Regions from separate parts of the Homo sapiens genome. Here region 1 is linked to region 2. The links come from fine-mapping of genetic effects on gene expression. A gene starts in region 2. The other region holds a variant in brackets. All regions are shown on one strand. Distances are between the middles of the regions.

Evidence for each region. PIP is the estimated chance that this variant, and not a neighbour inherited with it, causes the effect. A credible set is the group of variants that fine-mapping cannot tell apart.
Region 1: its variant is the best candidate, but not a certain one, in a credible set for the expression of TMED5 in whole blood (TOPMed, PIP 0.81).

What each region holds. Positions count from the first base shown.
Region 1 is chr1:93,209,031-93,217,371 of GRCh38, reverse strand. CCDC18 (coiled-coil domain containing 18) reads right to left here. Exons shown (of 29, transcript NM_001378204.1): 10 at 6,446-6,570; 11 at 5,111-5,271; 12 at 2,406-2,629; 13 at 626-736. Among named protein-coding and RNA genes, the nearest start is that of CCDC18, 32 kb to the right of the region's middle. The variant T/A (reference allele first, on the strand shown) is at 5,049.
Region 2 is chr1:93,175,701-93,184,041 of GRCh38, reverse strand. TMED5 (transmembrane p24 trafficking protein 5) reads left to right here and starts at 3,629. Exons shown (of 4, transcript NM_016040.5): 1 at 3,629-3,988. The coding sequence starts at 3,800. CCDC18 (coiled-coil domain containing 18) reads right to left here and starts at 3,318. Exons shown (of 29, transcript NM_001378204.1): 1 at 3,190-3,318; 2 at 547-682; 3 at 1-64. The coding sequence starts at 680. RefSeq lists enhancers at 3,019-3,228, 4,099-4,248 and a silencer at 3,289-3,568.

The DNA of each region.
Region 1 (8,341 bases), 33 kb before region 2:
TAGTTTATACTTCAAACTTTAACAAAATGGCTAAAAATACTTTATCAAGACGAGAAGATTTAAACTATTTTAAATATCAAGAAGCATATCAAAGAACTACCATTATCTTCAATCCTATTAGGATAAAAATGAGAAAACGGCCGGGTGCGGTGGCTCACGCCTGTAATCCCAACACTTTGGAAGGCTGAGGCGGGTGGATCACGAGGTCAGGAGATGAGACCATCCTGGCTAACACGGTGAAACCTGTCTCTACTGAAAATACAAAAAAAATTAGCCAGGCGTGGTGGCGGGCGCCTGTAGTCCCAGCTACTCGGGAGGCTGAGGCAGGAGAATGGCGTGAACCCAGGAGGCAGAGCTTGCAGTGAGCCGAGATCACACCACTGCACTCCAGCCTGGGCGACGGAGTGAGACTCTGTCTCAAAAAAAAAAAAAAAAAGAGAAAACTTGGATAACTTGCCATATAAGCCTATTAACTTAAAAATATAAACAAGAAATGATCAGAAGAGTTTAGTAGAATTTATACTTTCCTATATATTTTATAATAATGATGCTAAAACAAATGTGCTGTCACAAATTAAGTGCCTAAAAATCACAGTAAATTTGTAGGAACAAAGATAAGTTTTACCATAAGCTCCTGTTCTAGTTCTGCATTTTTTGCAGCAATAGAGGAATAAGCAACTATCTTTTCTTCCAGCTGTTTCTCAAGAGTTAAAAGTTGAGAACATTTCTTTGTCATCTGAAAACACATTGAAATAAATGTAAAATTATTTTTTAAAGGTAATGATTTTGCATTCTAAGATCAAACACCTGCTCCTCTTTCAAAGTTCAAATACATTGTGTCTAGGTAAATTGGGCAAACTTACAGTTATAAACATTTAGGATGCAAAGTGAATAACTTTTTAACCCACATAATTATAAGTATTTTACAAAATAAGTGACAATTAAGAAGAAAAACAAATACTGAAAACAAAGGATCACTTCTTCTATCTATGTAAAACATAAGTCATTTAATTCAGACCCCTATATCCAAAAAGGACAATACCCTAATCTATTTTTACGTAGCTGTTAAAGACTGAAATAAGTACAATAAAATGTTATCAGCAGTTATTTCTGGTGGTAGAATTATCAATGGTTCATTTTCTTCTTTTTCCCCTTTTATATTAACAAGACTGTGCTATTTTTGTAATTTAAAAAACTTATTAATCCCAGTATTTGGCAATTTCCTAAGTAAACTGGTAGCCATAGTTATAAACTGTCTAAATCTCCATCTTCATTATTAACATAAGTTCCTATCTTATAGTTCTTTTTCCTCAGCCTTGGCTATAGACTTTAAGCTGAGAAAGCAGGTATTTAAAAAGTGTACCTATAGATGACTGCAGCCTCTGGTTTGAAGATCGAGTATAAGATATACACATGTGGTCCTGGTCCACAATTACCTAATGAGGCACCCTTATCCTGTCCTCAGTGAAAATGAAGACAAGATATTCACAAAACACTCATTATCCCCTTTTCAGAATGTAATTCCTTGCGTAGTTGTTTCAGGTTTACATGCAGTTGTTTAAAAATACAGACTCTTTAAACAGCAGAAATACACAAAAAATAAAAATACAGATTCCGGCTAGGTGTGGTGGCTCACACCAGTAATCCCAGCATTTTGGGATACTGAGGTGGGGATCACCTGAAACCAGGAGTTCGAGGCAAGCCTGGGCAACACAGCGACTGTCTCTACAAATAAAAAATAAAAAAACTTAGCTGGACATAGTGACACATGCCTGCAGTCTCAAATACTTGGAAGACTGAGGCAGGAGAATGGCTTGAGCCTAGAAGTTCAAAGCTACAGTGAGCTATGATCACACCACCACACTCCAGACTGGGCAACAGAGCAAGACCCTGTCTCTAAGAAAAAAAAAAAAAAAGAAAAAGAAAAGAAAAAAGCAGACTCTTGTGCCCATATATACTGAATCAGAAATTGCTGGAACAGGACCCAGAAATATGCATATTAAACAGGCTTCCTAGGTGGTTTGGGGTTTGCTAAAATTTGAAATCCTTTATTATCACTCCTTTTCTTCCAACAGCATAATCCAAAGTCTTTATTTATAAATGTATATTAACCATATTAACTTATACTATGGAAGAAATAATAGGCTGCAATGCAATATTATTTCCACCAAATTTGAGACTTTTACCCACTACAGTTTTTCCTACTTTTAATAACTTTAACTTTTAATAAGTTAAAATACAAAGGTTTCCAAATATAATTTTAAAACAATTTATAACTTATGTGGTACCATTTTTTAAAAACTTTAAATCTGGATGTAAACATATAATTTTTATAAAACCCTAAAATAATACCTTTTGTTCTAGTTCAAAAATTAACATATATACCAAGCTAATTCCAAGCTTACTTCACTTTCCAGTTTGCTGGAGTTTGAAGCTTTCTCTAGCAGCTCCTCTTGAATCAGCTGAAACTGACTAGTTCTGTGAGCCATGTTAACCTTCAAATCAGAATTTTCAGCTTCTATTTGTATCAGCTTAGTACGTAGTTCTTCTATTCCAGTAACAAGTCTTTGCCTCTCTTTTTCATATTGCTTGTTCATAGTATGTTGATTTTGATCTTTTACGCTTTCTGCTAATAAACATAAAAGGAAAATTGTTCTGAATAGGACTTCAAGAATAAAAACCTACTTAAATAGTTGAAAGATTTAGTCATAAACAAAGTTTAGTTTCTGATCTAAAGAGTACTAAAAGGGACAGAGAATGAGACATTCATTAAGGAAATCAAAGAATAAGTAATGTGCTCTCTAAATTAAATACGTAACAAAGAGGAGAAAAGTTCTGAATCACTCATTTTTCTAGGTAGCTAAGACTATTCCTTTGTACCAGAAATGTAAGAATCCTTCTCCACCTTTTAAATTCCATTTTTTAATAGAAATCATTGTAAAAATTTTTTTTAAGTTGCCCTGTTTCCTTAAACTGAAGGTAATCATAAAATTTATTTGGACAGTTTGAGATCATTAAGAACATTTTTATGTACTGCACACAGAAGCAGGTTCAAAAGCTCCAAAGAGTGAATCCTTCCCGACCCCATCGTCTTTCTCTCCAAACTAGCTAATGAGAATTCAGTGATGCTTTAAAAAAAATTACTGAGGGTAGCCAGGCACAGTGGCACCTGTTATCTGAGCTATTCAACAGGCTGAGGTGTGAGGATCACTTGAGCCCAATTCAAGACCATCCTGGGCAACATGGCAAGATCCTGTCTCAAAAAAATTACTGAGGGTTATCAGAGGTAGTTACTTGACCATGCCCCTTCTCCACTATAAACATACACATCTCCCACTCCAAGGTAAGTAAGCCTTCAGAAGTGCTTTTAAAAAGCATAATGTAGATGATTACATGAGAACACACAGATGTGGAAACAAGATACACTTTGCCTTCAAGATTTGCATCAGTAGCCATTTCTCATAAATTCTCTACATCTATAATATTTCACTTTCTAGGCTATTTACTTTTTATTGGCTCTGTTCTTGATGTAAAAGAATCTATAACATATTATATTTATTACCACCTCTAATTACTAGTATTCTCAACTTGGAACATTCACCAAGATAGATCATACGCTGGACAATAAACCAAATCTCAAAACATTCTTAAAAATGAAGTCCTATACAGTATGTTCTCTGATCATCATGAATGACACAAAAATATCTGGAAAAACCTCCAAATATTTGGAAATAAAACACACACAGCCTATGAGTCAAAGAGGAAATCACAAGAGATAACTATTTTGAACTGAATGAAAATGAAAATACAACACATTAAAAAAAGTAGTGGAATACACCCAAAGCACCGCTTAAAGGGAAGTTTCTATCCTTAAATACTTAGATGAGAAAAGAAAAGAGGTCTAAAATCAATAATCTAAACTTTAAGAAAAGTTTTGTGGTTTTTTTGGAAAAAAAAAAAAAGAGAGAAAATTAAGCCTAAAAGTTAACTGGGAAAAAGTACAAAGGATCCTGGTGGAGATGTCTTATGTCTTGACTGTGGTGATGGTAACAAGAGTTAAACATTAAAACACAAACACCTGACAAAACGTATCAAACTGTATATTAAAATGGGTGCATCTTAACTGCAGGGGTCCCCAACCCCTGGGCCACGGACTGGTACCAGTCCATGGCCCATTAGGAACTGGGCCACATAGTAGGAGGTGAGTGGCAGGCGAATGAGCAAAGCTTCATCTGTAGTTACACCCACTCCCAATCGCTCGCATTACTGCTGGAGCTCTACCTCCTGTCAGATTAGCGGCAGCATTAGATTCCCACAGGAACACAAACCCTATTATGAACTGCACATGCGCAGGATCTAGACTGCTCACTCCTTATGAGAATCTAATGCCTGATGATCTGTCACTGTCTGCCATGACCCCCAGATGGAACCTTCTAGTTGCAGGAAAACAAGGTCAGGGCTACCACTGATTCTACATTACGATGAGTTGTATAATTATTTCAACATCAATATGATAATAATATAAATAAATTGCACAATAAATGTCATGCGTTTGAATCATCCTGAAACCAACCCTGACCCTGTCCCTGGTCCATGGAAAAAATGTCTTCCACAAAACCAGTCCCTGGTGCCAAAAAGGTTGGGGACCACTGTTCTATTGGATATCAATTTTACTTCATTAACGAATGATACAAAGTCTAATAATTCTGAAATAACTTTTGCTGTCTTATCAGACCACAACTAGTAACAGATTATCAAGTATGTTTGATAATAGAAACCAAACAGTTGATAAATTTGTTCTTTAAAAACTATCATCTGAGAACACATGGAAACATAGAGGGGAACAACACATACTGGGGTCTATCAGAGGGTGGAGGGTGGAAGGAGGGAGTAGATCAGGAAAAATAATTAAGGGGTACTAGGCTTAATACCTGGGTGATGAAATAATCTGTAAAACAAACCTCCATGACACAAGCTTACCTATGTAACAAATCTGCACATGTATCCCTGAACTTAAATTAAAAAAAAAATTTAAATAAAAGTTTTTT[T/A]AAAAAAAAACTATCATCCAAAACTCTGAATATAATTTATTAAAATAACTCAATATACTTACCTACTTGATGACCACCTAGCTTTACAGGTTCTGTTTCTAAACTACTTAATTTGCTACTTTCTTGGCTGTCATTACAAGTAATAAGACTCTGAGATAACTGATTTGCAGTCAGGTTTGCATGAAGCTTTTGAATTTCTGCCTCTTTTATTGCAAGCTTAATTCTGGCACAAAAGAAAAGAAGGGAAAAATTATTAGAAAGATTCTATAAAAAAACTCATACTGTACTATTTTTCACCTTTCAAGTTGATTTAAAAAATTAGAATTCTAATATTAGTCAACTCTTTAGGCAGGATATGAAAACTCCCATATACCACTGTAGAATTATAAATTGGTTCAGCCACTTTACAAACTTGATGGTATTTAGTAAAATTGAAAATGTACACACTGTATGACCCAGCAATTTCACTGTTAGGAATATATACTACAGAAACTCTCATATATATGTATAAGAAAACATGTACAAGGATGTCCTTTGCAGCACTGTTTGTAACAGAAAACAGAAACAAGATACCTATAAAGGAACAAATAAATTATGACACTGTTATAGGACAGAATCCTATACAGCTATTAAAAGTAATTACACAAATCCATTTGTTAATCTACTCTATCTCAATATGAATGAATTTTTTAAATACTGCTGAGTGAAAAAGCAAAATTGCACACAGTATACGGTACATATTTGTGTACATGTGTGTAAACATACAAAAATGAATAGAGAAATATATATCCAATTCATGATGGTGGATACTTAGGGGAAAAATGGGACTAGTCATAAGGATCAAAGGGCATTATTCATCCTGTAATGTTTTATTTTTTATTTGGAGAAACAGATTTAAAACAAATACCACAAATTTTAAGGAGAATCAATCCTGGTTAAGAAGATTCAATTCTTAGTTGTGGAATCACAGATACCTGTTATAATATTCTCTGAGCTTTTCTGTATATTTTTTAAATTCCTCAATTAAGGGTCTTTTTTTTTTTTTTTTAATGGAGTCTCACTCTGTTGCTCAGGCTGGAGTGCAGTGGCACTATCTCAGCTCACTGCAACCACCGCCTCCCGGGTTCAAGTGATTCTCCTGCCTCAGCCTCCCAAGTAGTGGGGATTACAGGCGCGTGCCACCACCATGCCTGGCTAATTTTTGTATTTTTAGTAGAGACGAGGTTTCACCATGTTGGTCAGGCTGGTCTCGAACTCCTGACCTCGTGATCCGCCTGCCTCAGCCTCCCAAAGTGTTGGGATTACAGGCATGAGCCACCATGCCCGGCCAATTAAGGGTCTTAATTACCAATAAAAAACATTCTATTTGCTATAACTGCAGAATCTGAAAATTGTACCTCAATTCCGAAATCACCAATTTATTTGCCTCACAGCAGCCAATGCAACGGTCTTCCTTGTTTGAGAAGCTACTCATCTGGTATTTAGAAAGATATGATTTAAAGCCAAATAATTCTCTTTTTAACTGCAAGTTTAAAAACAAACATATGTAAACTTATGTAAATGAGATGCATTTGCTTTTTTATTCAGAACTTCAAATTTTAAAAACTGTATGAATTTAATGGAAACAACTTAATGTCCATCAATAGGAGAATATATAAATACATTAAGAAATATTAAGATAATTGGAAAACTACAATAGTTAAAAGAAATAAACCTGAGTCACATAAATCAGTATGGATACATCTCATAACAATATTGAGTGAAAAACAAATTATAGTGGCAAACAGTATTTTCATAAAAACACTAAGCAACATATATATATTTCTAGATGCATCGATATGTGACAATATTTAAAACATGGACGAGAAGGATACACATGAATTTCAGAATAATTGCCATTTCTGAGGAGAGAGGAAGATAATTGGGATCTGACAAGGTACACAAAGAAGATTTACCTGTAAAATTTTATTCTAAAAAAACATAGAGTTGATAAGACAATATGTGTCCCAAATTTTACAAATAAGGTGCTACACTAGCATATGCACCTTTCTGTATGTTTGGATAATACAGAATTTTAAAAGACAGTTATAAAAAGGAGCAAGGTTAGCATTTAATGACTTCTACCTTCAAACTATAACCGAATCACACCTCCTAGAAGTAGAAAAAAATCACATTTTCTAATCGTGTCATTCTTAGCACTACAAGAAACAAACGATCAAGCATACATTACCACATTCGGAATCATATCTCAAATGATTCTTTTTTGAGAGACAGGGTCTCACTCTGTCACCCAGACTGGAGCTTATGATCATAGAGCTCACTGCAGCCTCGAACTCTTGGACTCAAGCAATCCTCCTACCTCAGCTTCTCGAGTAGCTAGGACCACAGGCATGCGCCACCATGCCCAGCTAATTTTTGCATTTTTGTAGAGACAGGGTCTCACTGTATTACCCAAGCTGGTCTTGAACTCTTGCTTCAAGAGTTCCTCTCACCTTGGCCTGCCAAAATGCTGGGATTACAAGCAGGAGCCACTGTGCCTGACCATATATGAAATAATTCTTGATACACAAATGAGAATGCCAAATTAAAATTGTTATCTGTATATGATTACTTTCTAATTTCAAAAGCAAACAGTACATTAAAAATCCAAGCAAATAAACAGCATCCTGGGAAAGCAGATATCAGAGGAGCTAAGATCTTATGTTCTAGTTTAAATTCTACTACTTACCAGTTGGGCAAGTTATTTACTTTCTTGGGTCTAGGTTTCTTCACCAATAAAATAGTATTGAATCAGATGATTTCTGAGATTTTTTTGGTTCATAATTCCACAGTTCATAACAGTTTAACATTGGTAAGTCTACCATCTAGTCTACCATACATTCATATCTGAAACCAACCATAATATATTTACCTATAGTTTCCCCTGATCTTTCCTTCATTTTACACCTATTGATTACAAATTCCTGAATAGGTTTACTTACCTTCTTCTTAATCTCATTTATATATATGGTCACAAATATTACTAAAAGAGAAAAGGTGGTAGACCATTATTATAAAAACATTTTAGGCCAGGCGTGGTGGCTCATGCCTGTAATCCCAGCATTTCGGGAGGCTAAGGCAGGCAGATCACCTGAGGTTGGGAGTTCGAGACCAGCCTGACCAACATGGAGAAACCCTGTCTCTACTAAAAATACAAAATTAGCTGGGCATGGTGGCACATGCCTGTAATCCCAGCTACTCAGGAGGCTGAGGCAGGAGAATCGCTTGAACCCAGGAGGCTGAGGTTGCAGTGC
Region 2 (8,341 bases):
CAAAATTAGCTTTTCAGACCTTGAAGGATTAGGGGCATAATCAGAATTTTCACTTGGACTAACACTAGAGAAAAAAGAAAAAACATATTTCAGTTCTTGGATAGTTTATTCACTACAAATTGCTATACATTAAATAAGAAAATAGAAAACCTGAAATGCTGCTAAGCAGATTCACAGTTATGAACATAAGGCAATGTTTCCACTAAATTTTAAATAAATCATAATTACTTTTAAACTAGCAAACTGTATTTCTAAAGCCTCTACGCTAAGATTACTTAAGATTCAAAAAAATCATAAAAAATTAGTAAAGCCCAAAATATATATTTTATACTGAGTTCTAATACACTGAAAGTGTTTTTAATATGCAAAGAGGCTTCTCTAATATTCCTTATTTTTCCCTAAACTGAAAGTTACATTAAAAAGTATAAGAAAATTATTTCTTATTCCAGAGGCAGGTTAGAAACAATACATCATAATGAAATCCACACATTTTACATTGATGTATTTAAGGCACAGTGAATTCTATATGTGATTTTACTTACTTACCTGGATAACTCTTCCCCTAAACTCTGCAAACTCCATTCTGTTATCTTCAGTTCATGTCTTAAGGAAGCAACATTTGCAAGCAAACTTTCCTCTTCATTGTCTTTATTATAGTAGTCTGATGAACTAGATTCCATTTCTTAAAAAAAAAATGAATTTCTTGTACCTTGTCTGAAAGATTCTGTAGTTTCAGTCAAAATACTCACATGAATAGAATTTAACTCATTAGTTTTCTATTTTAAATGTTGTGAAATCTTTCATGGTGGTTTAAAACAAAACAAAAAATCAATAATAATGAATTTATCTGTAGTGTAAAGCCATAAAGGAATTCAATACAATTTCAATGAATGAATTTTTCATTTTAGCCAGGGTCTAGTTATTATAGTTCTCTTTTGTAAGCATACCTGATCTTCCTAACAATTGTTAATTATTTTCATTACATGTTAAGGAAACTAAGAATCAGACATTAAATAACTTGCTCAAAGTCACACAAACTGTAAATGGTGAAATCAAGATTTGAATCCAAGTCATTAGGATGCAAAGACCATTAAATTATGTCGCATTGTAGCTTTATTACATATTACATATCAATTTCAATATGAGGTGTTTGAACTTTCATAATTACATTACAAGTACTGGACATCTGATTAAATGGTATCATTACATTCATATTTTGTTAGAAGGGAATTTATTACCAGATAAAAGCTGTCTCCTCCTCCTACGCCCAATAGTTATAAAATTTTAAAAAGACACATTTACAAGTCACAACCACAGGGATCAAAATAACATTTGGCAGGTCAACTCATAGAAATGAAGAAAAGCTTTTGTTTCTTCAGTGGATGAGTATCTCTAGGGTTGTGAAACTACTAAATTTCTTTGCATATAAAAATCACAATAAAGCATCACATTTTATTATTGTAATTAATACAATAAAAAACTAAAGCTTTATAATCTCCACTACTACAGAGCTTTCTGCGCAATCTTAAAATTACATTCCTCTTTCAGATCCCATTTACCTTTTTCACTGTAGCATCTCCTTCAACGCCCTTCTTAGCATTCTGATCCCATCCCAAGTTCCAAAAGGTTAAAAGTCCTGTGCATTACGTTCAGGACCGCAATGTACTTAGAGAAGCTCAATATTTTGAATGAATTAACGAATACTAAACTGTCCTTCCTTCCCTCATCCAGTTAGAATGGTATGTTACATTTATTCCCCACTCAAAAATTCTCAGATGTAGGGAGGAAGATTAAAAAGAAAACTCCCACCTTATGGAAAGAAAGTGGCAGGAAATTAAATGAGATACTATGTAATCTTAATAGACAAACTGGTTCTATCCTCTTTCCCTTTTTTGTTTCCACAAATTTGCTTCTGCTTAAGTGACAAGACTCTCGCAGACAAGTCAATAAATCAGGTCCCCATCCTGCTTTACCTATTCAACATCTCTAGCTCTCTGTAGGATGGTGAAGGAGAAAAGGGTAGAGAAAATTGGGCAAATTCTATAATACCATTTGGTACTATATATTTCATCTTAAATCAGGTTTTAGTTCAACATCTGTGTATTGCCATGCAAGAAATAACTCCCAGTCCGGGCGCGGTGGCTCACGCCGGTAATCCCAGCACTTTGGGAGGTCAAGGCGGGTGGATCACGAGGTCAAAAGTTAAAGACCAACCTGGCCAAGATGGTGAAACCCCGTATCTACTAAAAATACAAAAAAATTAGCCGGGGGTGGTGGCGAGCGCCTGTAATCTCAGCTACTCGGGAGGCTGAGGCAGAGAATTGCTTGAACCTGGGAGGCGGAGGTTGCAGTGAGCCGAGATCGCGCCACTGCACTCCAGCCTGGGCGACAGAGTGAGACTCGGTCTCAAAAAAAAAAGAAAGAACTCCCTAACTCTTCTGCAGTAGCAATGAATATATTTGATACTAAAATGTTTTCATTTTCCTAGTGGGACATTTACTGTCAAATGAATGTCCTTAACTTCAATTTACAGTAGTTACCCAAAAAAGGCTATCTTCACTGACTATGCATACCTAGAAAAGCACATCATCCTACTCACCGACCTTAACAACATCATCTTTCGGCCCTAATTAACAATGTGTTTGTAGGTTTGCACACGCACACCCATCAAACGAAGGACAAGTGTTCTTTTATACCCTATGTATGTGATACAATGGGCTGTAGTCGAAAAAGATTCCTCATTTTGGAAAGAAGTCATAACTTTATGTAGTAGTCTCCTGTCTCAAGATCGCTTGACACAGCTAATCTTACATCCGTCTGAAAGAAGCGGGGGCGGGGGTGGGGGACGGAAGTGACAGTTTCCTCTTTTTTTTTTTTTTTTTAATTTTATAGAGACAGTGGCTCGCCATATTGCCAAGGCTGGCCTCGAACTCCTGGGCTCAAGCAATCCTTCCGCCTCGACATCCCAAAGTGCTGAGGTAACAGGCGTAAGCCACTGCGCCCGGCCTCCTATTTTTCATCAAATAAAATACAACCGTTCAGAGCAGCATGCTCAGCAACCACGAGGACCAGTCCCAGCGCATCCAAGGTGCCGGGAGGGAAAGGAACAGAACTCCCCCAGGTAAGCCGGTTTCCCCACGCCAAGGCGCAGTCGCTCACCACCCAAATCGTCGCTGGGGAGAGACCCACCCGGCGACTGCGCGCTTCGCACTCGAGTCTGCGTTAGGAAGCCTCTGACCCTTTCCCGGGCCCCTGCGCGTGGAAGCCTCGGACACAACTCGGAGAACCAGCGAACCCCGGCAGCACAGAATTCGAACCGCCGCGGGAGCCGTTGGGACGCGCCTACCCGGTCACTGCCCCGCCCCGGCGCAGACTGCGTGAGGCGCCGCCGAAGGCGCGGGGCTTGCCGGGGATCGTGGTCGGCGAGCGCGCCCGAGCCCACTAGCGGAGCCCGCCCGGGACTACATTTCCCACAATTACCGCCATGATGCCCATTGGTGGGGGAAGCCATGGGAACCGGAGGCCGTCAGGGGGAGAGGCGGGCGGCGCTCACGCCTGGCCTGAGGGGGCCGAGACTGAGGCGGTTGCGGAATAGGACTGCTAGCCCCGCCCAGAGTCCCTACCCTTTGGAGAACTGCGCTTCTCTTTCGGAGGGAGTGTTCGCCGCCGCCGCGGCCGCCACCTGGAGTTTCTTCAGACTCCAGATTTCCCTGTCAACCACGAGGAGTCCAGAGAGGAAACGCGGAGCGGAGACAACAGTACCTGACGCCTCTTTCAGCCCGGGATCGCCCCAGCAGGGATGGGCGACAAGATCTGGCTGCCCTTCCCCGTGCTCCTTCTGGCCGCTCTGCCTCCGGTGCTGCTGCCTGGGGCGGCCGGCTTCACACCTTCCCTCGATAGCGACTTCACCTTTACCCTTCCCGCCGGCCAGAAGGAGTGCTTCTACCAGCCCATGCCCCTGAAGGCCTCGCTGGAGATCGAGTACCAAGTAAGTGCGGAGGATAAACCAGCCTCCTTCCTTTAACCCAGCTGCACTGCGTTGTCGCCTCTCACCCGTTTAGAAACTTCTGGTGGACGGCCCTGGTGGTGAAGAGGCGAGGGCCGTTCAGGAAGCCAGCCCGCTCCGCGCAGGCGCGCGAGGCGAGGCGAGGCTCTCGCTGGGGCCGGGGACCCAGAACTTAGGCTGGACCTGGAATTGATGACTACCCGCCTTCTCCCCTTTCCTCCGGTGGGAAGGAGGCCAGAACTGGTGATGTCGCTGGCTTTTCTCTTTGTTTCCTAATTCGCCCACTGCTTTTCTTAGCCACTACACGCTCTCATACTGAGAATTTCACAATGCAGAACTGATACACGTTCTCCTTCATCATTGGACAAGGTGATGACACTTGTTTGAATCACCCCCACCCCTTTCACACAGTTCAGATGTTACAAATCACTGTCTTTGCTTCAGTTAAGGGTTTTTGGATTATGATCGTGTAATTGGCATTAAGCCCGATTTTGAAATTTTTTGGAAGACGCTGTTGCTATATTTAATGATACATTTCCGTTTAAGTTATATATCCATTATTTTCAAAAGATCAAATCGTATATTAAAACTTTATAACCTTTCTTTTCATTTTTTCATTGAGCATTGTAAGCATTTCCCTCGTGTCATTGTTTTTTTTTTTTTTTTTTGAGACGGAGTCTCGCTTTGTTGCTCAAGCTAGAGTTGGAGTGCAGTGGCGCTATCTCGGCTCATTGCAACCTCCGCCTCCCGGGTTCAAGCGATTCTCCTGCCTCAGCCTTCCGAGTAGCTGAGATTACAGACGTGCGCCACCATGCCCAGCTAATTTTTGTATTTTTAGTAGAGACGGGGTTTCACCATGTTGGCCAGGCTGGTCTCGAACTCCCGACCTCAGGCGATCCACCCGCCTCGGCCTCCCAAAGTGCTGGGATTACAGGCGTGAGCCACCATGCCTAGCATGTTTTCTTTTTAGTATCTGCATAATATTCTTGCTGGGAATTACCTTATTTTATGTAGTCATGGTGGTAGGGGGTAATTTCTTAGAAGAAATCTTGTTCGTTCCACAGCAAATTCCGATGTTTTCAGGTAGCAGTACAGGGGGGAAAGAAAAGGCATTGATGTGTTTCATCTTTCAGTTTTTTAGAAGTTAATTATAATCATCAAATGTTAATTTTTTAAGTTGATGTAGAGAATTGTTTTTAAATACCAGGTACTGTCACATACAGAGCAAAATAAAAAGTTGTAGAATTTTTTATACGATGGAACTTTAGGATTAAGTTGTATATAGATACACACGATAAGCACAGAGAATAAAATATCTAAAATCACATAGTGAGCAAAACTGAGGCTAAAACTCAGTGTTTCTTGATTTCCAGTAAAGTTCAAAAGTTCAACATTTACTGAACAGTTAACACGTGCCAGGAATTGTGCATGGAGGTGGGGGAGACGGAGGGGGAGCTGGGTTGTGCGGGATGTAGGTAAAAGAGAAAGAAAGAATCCCTCTTCTCAAAGAGCTTAATAAAGGTTACTGGCTCATAAACAGGTAATTTCAATAAAGGATGGCTAAGTACCAGTAGAGGAGGGTCACTTCTAAGGGTTTCAGAAGAGGATTCCTGGAGAAAATAAAATTTAATCCAGAAAGATGCTTAATTGAGACGAAAATGCCAGGAACAAGGGGCATTTCAGAAAAGCGAACAAAAAGATCCATAGTTCTTAAAATACATAGTGTAAGTGGGGATGGTTAGTGTGTAGTGGACACTACAAGTACTGAGTTTGTATTAGACTTTAAGACATATAAAGTCTAGGGTGGGAGTAGCAGAAAAGGACATCGGAGAGGCCAGAAGGCTGGGGTCATTAAGCATGAATCATAGCCTTGTTTGCCGTGCTGAGTAGGTTTTCCTTAATTTTGTACAAGTCCATTTAAGATTTAAGCAGATCACTGGATGCAGTGTGGAAAATGGATTTAAGGAGAGCAAAATTAGAGTCAAGGAAACTAACTAGAGGGCTAGTGAAATAGTCTAGATAAGAAAACAATTTGTATTAATAAAAAAATCTTCAGTATTTACACACATATTAGGGAAGATATCTATTTTAACTACTGTCCTCTTATAGTTAAGAGCACCAGCTCTTAACCTTAGCCTGGGTTCAAATCTTGACTCTGCCTACTTAAAACTTATGTGATCTTCTCACTTGTAAAATAGAGATAATAATTGTAACTACATCATAGAGTTGATTTGAAAAAGCATGAGTTAATAAATGCTCATATTCAGTGTAAAGTAGTCTATTAAAAAATGCTCATAGATCATCCCTGACACATAGTAAATAATCAATGAATGTTAATTTTACATTTATACCTCTATAGTTATGTAGCTGGCTTGGTTTAGCTTTATTCTTTACATCTTTAGTCACTCTTAAAGGGACTGTTCCTTTTTTTTTTTTTTTTTTTTTTTTTTTGAGACAGAGTCTCCCTCTGTCACTCTGTTACCCAGGCTGGAGTGCAGTGGCGCGACCTTGGCCCACAGCAACCTTCATCTCCCGAGTTCAAGTGATTCTCCCGCCTCAGCTTCCCGAGTAGCTGGATTACAGGCATGTGCCACCACACCCAGCTAATTTTTGTATTTTTAGTAGAGACGGGGTTTCACTATGTTGGCCAGACTGGTCCCAAACTCCTGATCTCAAGTGATCTGCCAGCCTCAGCCTCCAAAGTGCTGGGATTATAGGTGTGAGCCACCGCGCCCGGCTGGGACTATTCCTTTAAAACATTCTCCCTAAACAATTTGTTTTGATTAAGGAAAGAGGTAAAATCATTTGTCTGTAATCCTAGACAGTGTTGGTGAGATGTGTAGGGTAACTATCATCTTCCACCCTGTTTGTATTTCCCAACTTGTTTAATTTCCCAGTAACTACATCCTACTAATTTTTGTCTTAAAGTTAGTTTTTAAAATTTTATAGAACAATCTAGTTTTGTCCTTGGTTACTTATTGAAAATTTTACTAATTTCTTACTTTTTAGGTTTTAGGAGAATACTTTTTGGATAATTGACTAGCCTCACATTATATTGATAGAGGTTCTTGAAAACTTTAATGCCAATTCATGTATCTTATGACTAAAATAGATAATCCATTTAGAAATTTAAGTCATTCTTGCGTGCTTGATATGTGTCAGCACTATCCAAGTTGCTAGGGATACAATGGTGAGTGAAAATATCAGCTAGGTGCAGTGGCTCACACCTGTAATCCCAACAGTTTGGGAGGCCAAGGTGGGAGGATCACTCAAGCACAGGCGTTTCACACCAGCCTGGACAACATAGCAAGACCCCATCTCTACCAAAAATAAAGTTAGCCAGGCATGGTAGCACACACTTGTGGTTCCAGCTACTTGGGAGGCTGAGGTGGGAGGATCACTTGAGCCCAGGAGGTTGAGGCTATGGTGAGCTGTGATCACACCACTGTACTCCAGCCTCGGTGACAAGAGCGAGACCCTGCCTCAAAAAAATATATATATATATGTTTGTGTGTGTGTGTGTGTGTATAGTCTGTGCCCTCATACAATCAAGTATTAATTAATCAAATTATTACACAAATACATGTCAAAATATTTACTAGGGGTAATGAAGGTAAGTTCATAAGACTATGAGTGGGCTCAGTAGGAGGACTTCATTTTATCTGGAAATTGAAAGACATCCAGAAGTAGAGTTAAGATCTACAGAATTATCAGACTTTCACTAGGCATAATGGAATGAGTGGTACGAGACAATGGGTAAAAAAGAACAACAACGTGCCAAGATACTAAGGAAGAAGAGAGAAAGATACCTTTGAGGTCCTGAAAGATAGGATACAGAGAGAGAAAAGTGGTACAAGTCTACTTTAGAGAAGTCAGTAGCAACAGCAACCAAATCATTGTGGGCTTTTAGGTCCTTGTTAAGGATATGGGTCTTTTGCAGAGACCAGTAATACGCCACTGAATAGTTATAAGCAGGTTAACTCGATCTGTGTTTTTTAAAAGATCGTTTTGGCCACAAGGTATTGAGCCTCTCTGTACCAGTTTCTATACTTTAACAGTAATCACCTGCTCCCCACTATATATTATTGTGAAGAATAAATATGCTAATACATGTAAAAGGAATGGTATCTAGCACCAAATAAGCACTCAAAAAATGTTAGCTAGAAAATAAACCCTGAGCCTAGAACAACAATACTTTTTTAAGGGCATAATAGGCACTAAAAAGTATCTATTGAATGAGTGAACCAGACGTTTACCAAACATGTAAAACTATCTGGGTGAGTTTTTGGGAGAATATAGCTATATCAATTTTTAAAAATTTTTATTAGTCTTTCA